Linked DNA regions of Homo sapiens: region 1 is linked to region 2. The links come from fine-mapping of genetic effects on gene expression. A gene starts in region 2. The other region holds a variant in brackets. All regions are shown on one strand. Distances are between the middles of the regions. Region 1 has its middle 12 kb from the start of ARMCX2. Region 2 holds the start of GLA (galactosidase alpha).

The links.
Region 1: its variant is fine-mapped to the expression of GLA in whole blood (TOPMed, PIP above 0.99).

What each region holds. Positions count from the first base shown.
Region 1 is chrX:101,646,193-101,649,110 of GRCh38, forward strand. No RefSeq gene overlaps it. Among named protein-coding and RNA genes, the nearest start is that of ARMCX2, 12 kb to the right of the region's middle. The variant C/T (reference allele first, on the strand shown) is at 1,428.
Region 2 is chrX:101,406,761-101,409,676 of GRCh38, forward strand. GLA (galactosidase alpha) reads right to left here and starts at 1,165. Exons shown (of 7, transcript NM_000169.3): 1 at 950-1,165. The coding sequence starts at 1,143. All of the region lies in intron 3 of RPL36A-HNRNPH2 (RPL36A-HNRNPH2 readthrough), which reads left to right. It overlaps HNRNPH2 (heterogeneous nuclear ribonucleoprotein H2), which reads left to right and starts at 1,462. Exons shown (of 2, transcript NM_019597.5): 1 at 1,462-1,559.

The DNA of each region.
Region 1 (2,918 bases), 240 kb after region 2:
GAACATTGATGCAAAAATCCTCAATAAAACTGGCAAACCGAATCCAGCAACACATCAAAAAGCTTATCCACCATGATCAAGTGGGCTTCATCCCTGGGATGCAAGGCTGCTTCAACATATGCAAATCAATAAACGTAATCCAGCATATAAACAGAACCAAAGACAAAAACCACATGATTATCTCAATAGCTGCAGAAAAGGCCTTTGACAAAATTCAACAACCCTTCATGCTAAAAACTCTCAGTAAATTAGGTATTGATGGGACATATCTCAAACTAATAAGAGCTATCTATGACAAACCCGCAGCCAATATCATACTGAGTGGGCAAAAACTGGAAGCATTCCCTTTGAAAACTGGCACAAGACAGGGATGCCCTCTCTCACCTCTCCTATTCAACATAGTGTTGGAAGTTCTGGCCAGGGCAATCAGGCAGGAGAAGGAAATAAAGGGTATTCAATTAGGAAAAGAGGAAGTCAAATTGTCCCTGTTCGCAGATGACATGATTGTATACCTAGAAAACCCCATCGTCTCAGCCCAAAATCTCCTTAAGCTGATAAGCAACTTCAGCAAAATCTCAGGATACAAAATCAATGTGCAAAAATCACAAGCATTCTTATACACCAATAACAGACAAACAGAGAGCCAAATCATGAGTGAACTCCCACTTACAATTGCTTCAAAGAGAATAAAATACCTAGGAATCCAACTTACAAGGGATGTGAAGGACCTCTTCAAGGAGAACTACAAACCACTGCTCAATGAAATAAAAGAGGATACAAACAAATGGAAGAACATTCCATGCTCCTGGGTAGGAAGAATCAATATTGTGAAAATGGCCATACTGCCCAAGGTAATTTACAGATTCAATGCCATCCCCATCAAGCTACCAATGACTTTCTTCATAGAATTGGAAAAAACTACTTTAAAGTTCATATGGAACCAAAAAAGAGCCCACATTGCCAAGTCAATCCTAAGCCAAAAGAACGAAGCTGGAGGCATCACACTACCTGACTTCAAACTATACTACAAGGCTACAGTAACCAAAACAGCATGGTACTGGTACCAAAACAGAGATATAGATCAATGGAACAGAACAGAGCCTTCAGAAATAATGCCACATATCTACAACTATCTGATCTTTGACAAACCTGACAAAAACAAGAAATGGGGAAAGGATTCCCTATTTAATAAATGGTGCTGGGAAAACTGGCTAGCCATATGTAGAAAGCTGAAACTGGATCCCTTCCTTACACCTTATACAAAAATTAATTCAAGATGGATTAAAGACTTAAATGTTAGACCTAAAACCATAAAAACCCTAGAAGAAAACCTAGGCAATACCATTTAGGACGTAGGCATGGGCAAGGGCTTCATGTCTAAAACACCAAAAGCAATGGCAACAAAAGCCAAAATTGACAAATGGGAT[C/T]CAATTAAACTAAAGAGCTTCTGCACAGCAAAAGAAACTACTATAAGAGTGAACAGGCAACCTACAGAATGGGAGAACATTTTTGCAATCTACTCATCTGACAGAGGGCTAATATCCAGAATCTACAAAGAACTCAAAGAAATTTACAAGAAAAAAACAAACAACCCCATCAACAAGTGGGTGAAGGATATGAACAGACACTTCTCAAAAGAAGACATTTATGCAGCCAACAGACACATGAAAAAATGCTCATCATCACTGGTCATCAGAGAAATGCAAATCAAGACCACAATGAAATACCATCTCACACCAGTTAGAATGGTGATCATTAAAAAGTCAGGAAACAACAGGTGCTGGAGAGGATGTGGAGAAATAGGAACACTTTTACACTGTTGGTGGGACTGTAAACTAGTTCAACCATTGTGGAAGTCAGTGTGGTGATTCCTCAGGGATCTAGAACTAGAAATACCATTTGACCCAGCCATCCCATTACTGGGTATATACCCAAAGGATTATAAATCATGCTGCTATAAAGACACATGCACACGTATGTTTATTGAGGCACTATTCACAATAGCAAAGACTTGGAACCAACCCAAATGTCCAACAATGATAGACTGGATTAAGAAAATGTGGCACATATACACCATGGAATACTATGCAGCCATAAAAAATGATGAGTTCATGTCCTTTGTAGGGACATGGATGAAATTGGAAATCATCATTCTCAGCAAACTATCGCAAGGACAAAAAACCAAACACCGCATGTTCTCACTCATAGGTGGGAATTGAAGAATGAGAACACTTGGACACAGGAAGGGGAACATCACACACCGGGGCCTGTTGTAGGGTTGGGGGAGTGGGGAGGGATAGCATTGGGAGATATACCTAATGTAAATGACGAGTTAATGGGTGCAACACACCAACATGGCACATGTATACATATGTAACTAACCTGCACATTGTGCACATGTATCCTAAAACTTAAAGTATAATAAAAAAAATTTCAAATACATGGTTTTTAAAACATATTACCTTGTTATGTATTTCTATCCTAATTGCATTTTGGTCAAATAAAGTGATTATTATGACACTGATTCTTGGAAATTTGTTGAGATATGTTTTATGGCCAAATTCATGATCATTATTATAAACAGTCCCTCTATGCTTGAGAAGAAAGTGTATTCTCCTATTATTTGGTTCAGGATTTTGTGTACATCCATTAAATCAGATTGTTGACCACATTGCTCAATATTCTATATCTTTACTATCAAGATATATTAATAGAATACTTTTTGTTCTCCTTATTCTTTAAATACTTTAGAGATGTTGTATTCTTCCGTGCGATTGTTGATTTGTTCATTTCTTTTTATAGTTCCATAACATTTTTCTTTATATATACATATATATGTTTTGAGATGGAATCTCGCTCTGTCATCCAGGCTAGAGTGCAATGGCGCCATCTCGGCTGACTGCTACCTCCACCTCACT
Region 2 (2,916 bases):
AGCCCTTTGAGAATTTGAAGAAAGGTAAATATCCTCTCTCCAGAAAAATACACATATTCATTCAGATTTGTAGATTTACATTCATTTTCCCATTGAACATTTGCTCTGTAAGCGCAGTTGAATGGTCAAGCGCTGTGCTATGTACTTTAAATAGGTTATCTCCTTGAAAACTCACCTGTGTGAGATAAGAACTATTTTTCAGATTTTTTTTGTCAGCTCCCTGAAATTAAAAGGTTGTAATCCCAATTTACAGATAAGGATTGTGAGGGTCAGATATGTTCAATACCTATCTAATCCAGCCTCAACCCTCACGCAAAGGTGTAAATGTATAAAGTTCCTCCATGTCAACCTTCCAGCCTGATGCCACGCTCATGGGCGAGGTGGGAGAGATCTCAGCGACCTTATGGTCTCTCTAACTCCCTCGAGATACTGCCGAGAAATCCACGACCCCAAAAGGAGAAAAAATGGCACGAATCTTAGTTCCCCATTCCTCCTACCCACCCTAGATGTTCTAACGGTTAGCACCCGGCAGAGGAAGAGCAGAAGTTCACAAGAAGGGTCTGAATAGAACCGGGCAGGGCTACTTTGGGCACACTGCCTATGGGGTGGCCCTGCTCTGCAAGGAGCAGTGAAAAAAGAGAACCGGGCAGGGAGAGAGAGAAAGAGAGAGGAAAGAAGAGAAAGAGAAAGAGAAGGAGAACGAGAGAGAGAGAGAGAGAGAAAGAAACAGGGGCCGCTGGCCGGACTCCCATCCCAGGAAAGGTCACACAGAGAAAGTTTAGGGCTAGTCCTGATTCGGGACAGTTTGCTGGGGATAAAAAAGCAGCAGCAGAGTCGGGTGGGGGAGCTCTCCCTCGGGCTCAACTGTTCCCGTTGAGACTCTCCAGTTCCCCAAACACACCCAAACACATGGAAAAGCAAAGGGAAGGGAGTACCCAATATCTGATACCTGATGCAGGAATCTGGCTCTTCCTGGCAGTCAAGGTTGCACATGAAGCGCTCCCAGTGCAGCCAGCCCATGGTAGGCGTCCTTGCCAATCCATTGTCCAGTGCTCTAGCCCCAGGGATGTCCCAGGAAACGAGGGCCAGGAAGCGAAGCGCAAGCGCGCAGCCCAGATGTAGTTCTGGGTTCCTCAGCTGCATTGTCACGGTGACCGGACAGCATAAATTTCCGCGGGTAACCTGGGCTTTTAAGATTAACCTCAGGGGCGGACCAATCACCGATGACTTATTAAATAATGACGTTATTGTTTCTCTGGCAACTGGGACGGTTATCCCCAGAGGTAGACCAATAATCAGTCACGTAAGACGTTCCGCTAACCAATCACCCTCTTCCTTTCTTGATATTGACCCGCCCTATTTCCATACCAGAAGGAAGTGCGGCACCTTAGTGATCCCGAGTTTAAGCCGAGAGTTGCTCACGTGACCGAGATCTCACATGACGTAGGCGCTCACGTGATTACTCGCTTACGTGAGCAGAAGTAGTTCTGGTCGTCGTCTACCGTCTCGCTATAGCCGTTTGAGGGAAGAAGGAGGAAAATTACCCGGTATCGTTAGAGGTTGGTGTGTGGGTGGGAACTGGGGACCCAGGGGTGGTGATGATGAAGACCAGAGCGGGGTTCGGGGGCCGCCTCCGCCTCTTTCGTTCTCTGCTTTCCCCTCCCCCCTCGCGCTCTCTCCCTCCTCCCCCCCATCTCAGTGCCGGGAAGCCGCCTGTGCTGCGCCTGGTGGGGAAATGGTGGACGCTCATGACTGTGTATGTGTTTTTGTATATCTGTCTGTCTGGGCCGGTCTCGGGGGACCCCTAAGGGTGACCGTAAGGCGAAAAACGTTTGAAAACCACGGCCCTGAGTTAAGAAAAACAGATACTGAAAATAGTGGTCTGAGTGCTGGTCTATCCATTCAGGCACTCAGTCTCCACTGCCTGATTGTCTGTAAGGGGAGGCCCCAAGTGAATTTTATCTGTAGAGTCACATCTAGGCAAATGCGTGCTTGACAAAGGCGCCCAATAAATTACTTTACTGAATAGAGTATTTGAATAATGTTTATTTTTCTGCTGATAACAACAATCTACATATTCAATTTCGAACATTTGAAAAATAACAATATAGTATAAAATTTAAAAATACACATAATTCACCACCCGGAGACGACTGCTCAACCTGATGTCGTTACAGTTTTTTAAAAAATGTGTATAACACACATATAAATACACAAATTCTTAACTCACAAAGAGTCCTGGTTCCCACTTTAGCCAGCAGTCCTGATGGCCTTCCCAGGAGACGCAGTAATGAAGTAGAACCTCTCTGCCCCTACAGAAGGGCTCTTAAGGAATAGAGCGGTGCAGGGAATTAAATGGGACGGGTTATCCCAGGGATAAGGCAAGCAAAAAAAAAAAAAAAAATCCTGCAAAATGAAATAAAAAAACAGCTTGTAAATCTGTCACTGAGACCTTAGGATGGTTAATAGGAAAACTGTTATCACTGCAGATGCAGTGTGCTAGGCACATAATCGGCAATCAGTAAATGTTTGTTAAATCGTTTCCTCAGTGTAGTTTTATGGCCGTTATTACACTTTGTACTTTGTTTCCAAGAGGCCCAGTGCTCCCAGACCATTTCAGATAAACCATCCACATACAAAATTAGAAAATTTTATAAAATTTCCTATACCAAATCCCAGAAATGCAAACATTTTAATTTGTTTTATGTTACTTTTTTTGCTGAAGTAAAAGTAATTATTTCTGTAGAAATTTAAGGCTGCATAAAAAAATTGGAAAAATAACATGGAAAATCCATAAACCTCCCACTCAGAGTAACCACTAATATGTTCTTTCTAACTTAAAAAGAAAAAATCCCAGTACAGCAAATGTAAAGAATTAAAACTGTATAGAAGTATATAGGGTAAAAAGCGAAAAGC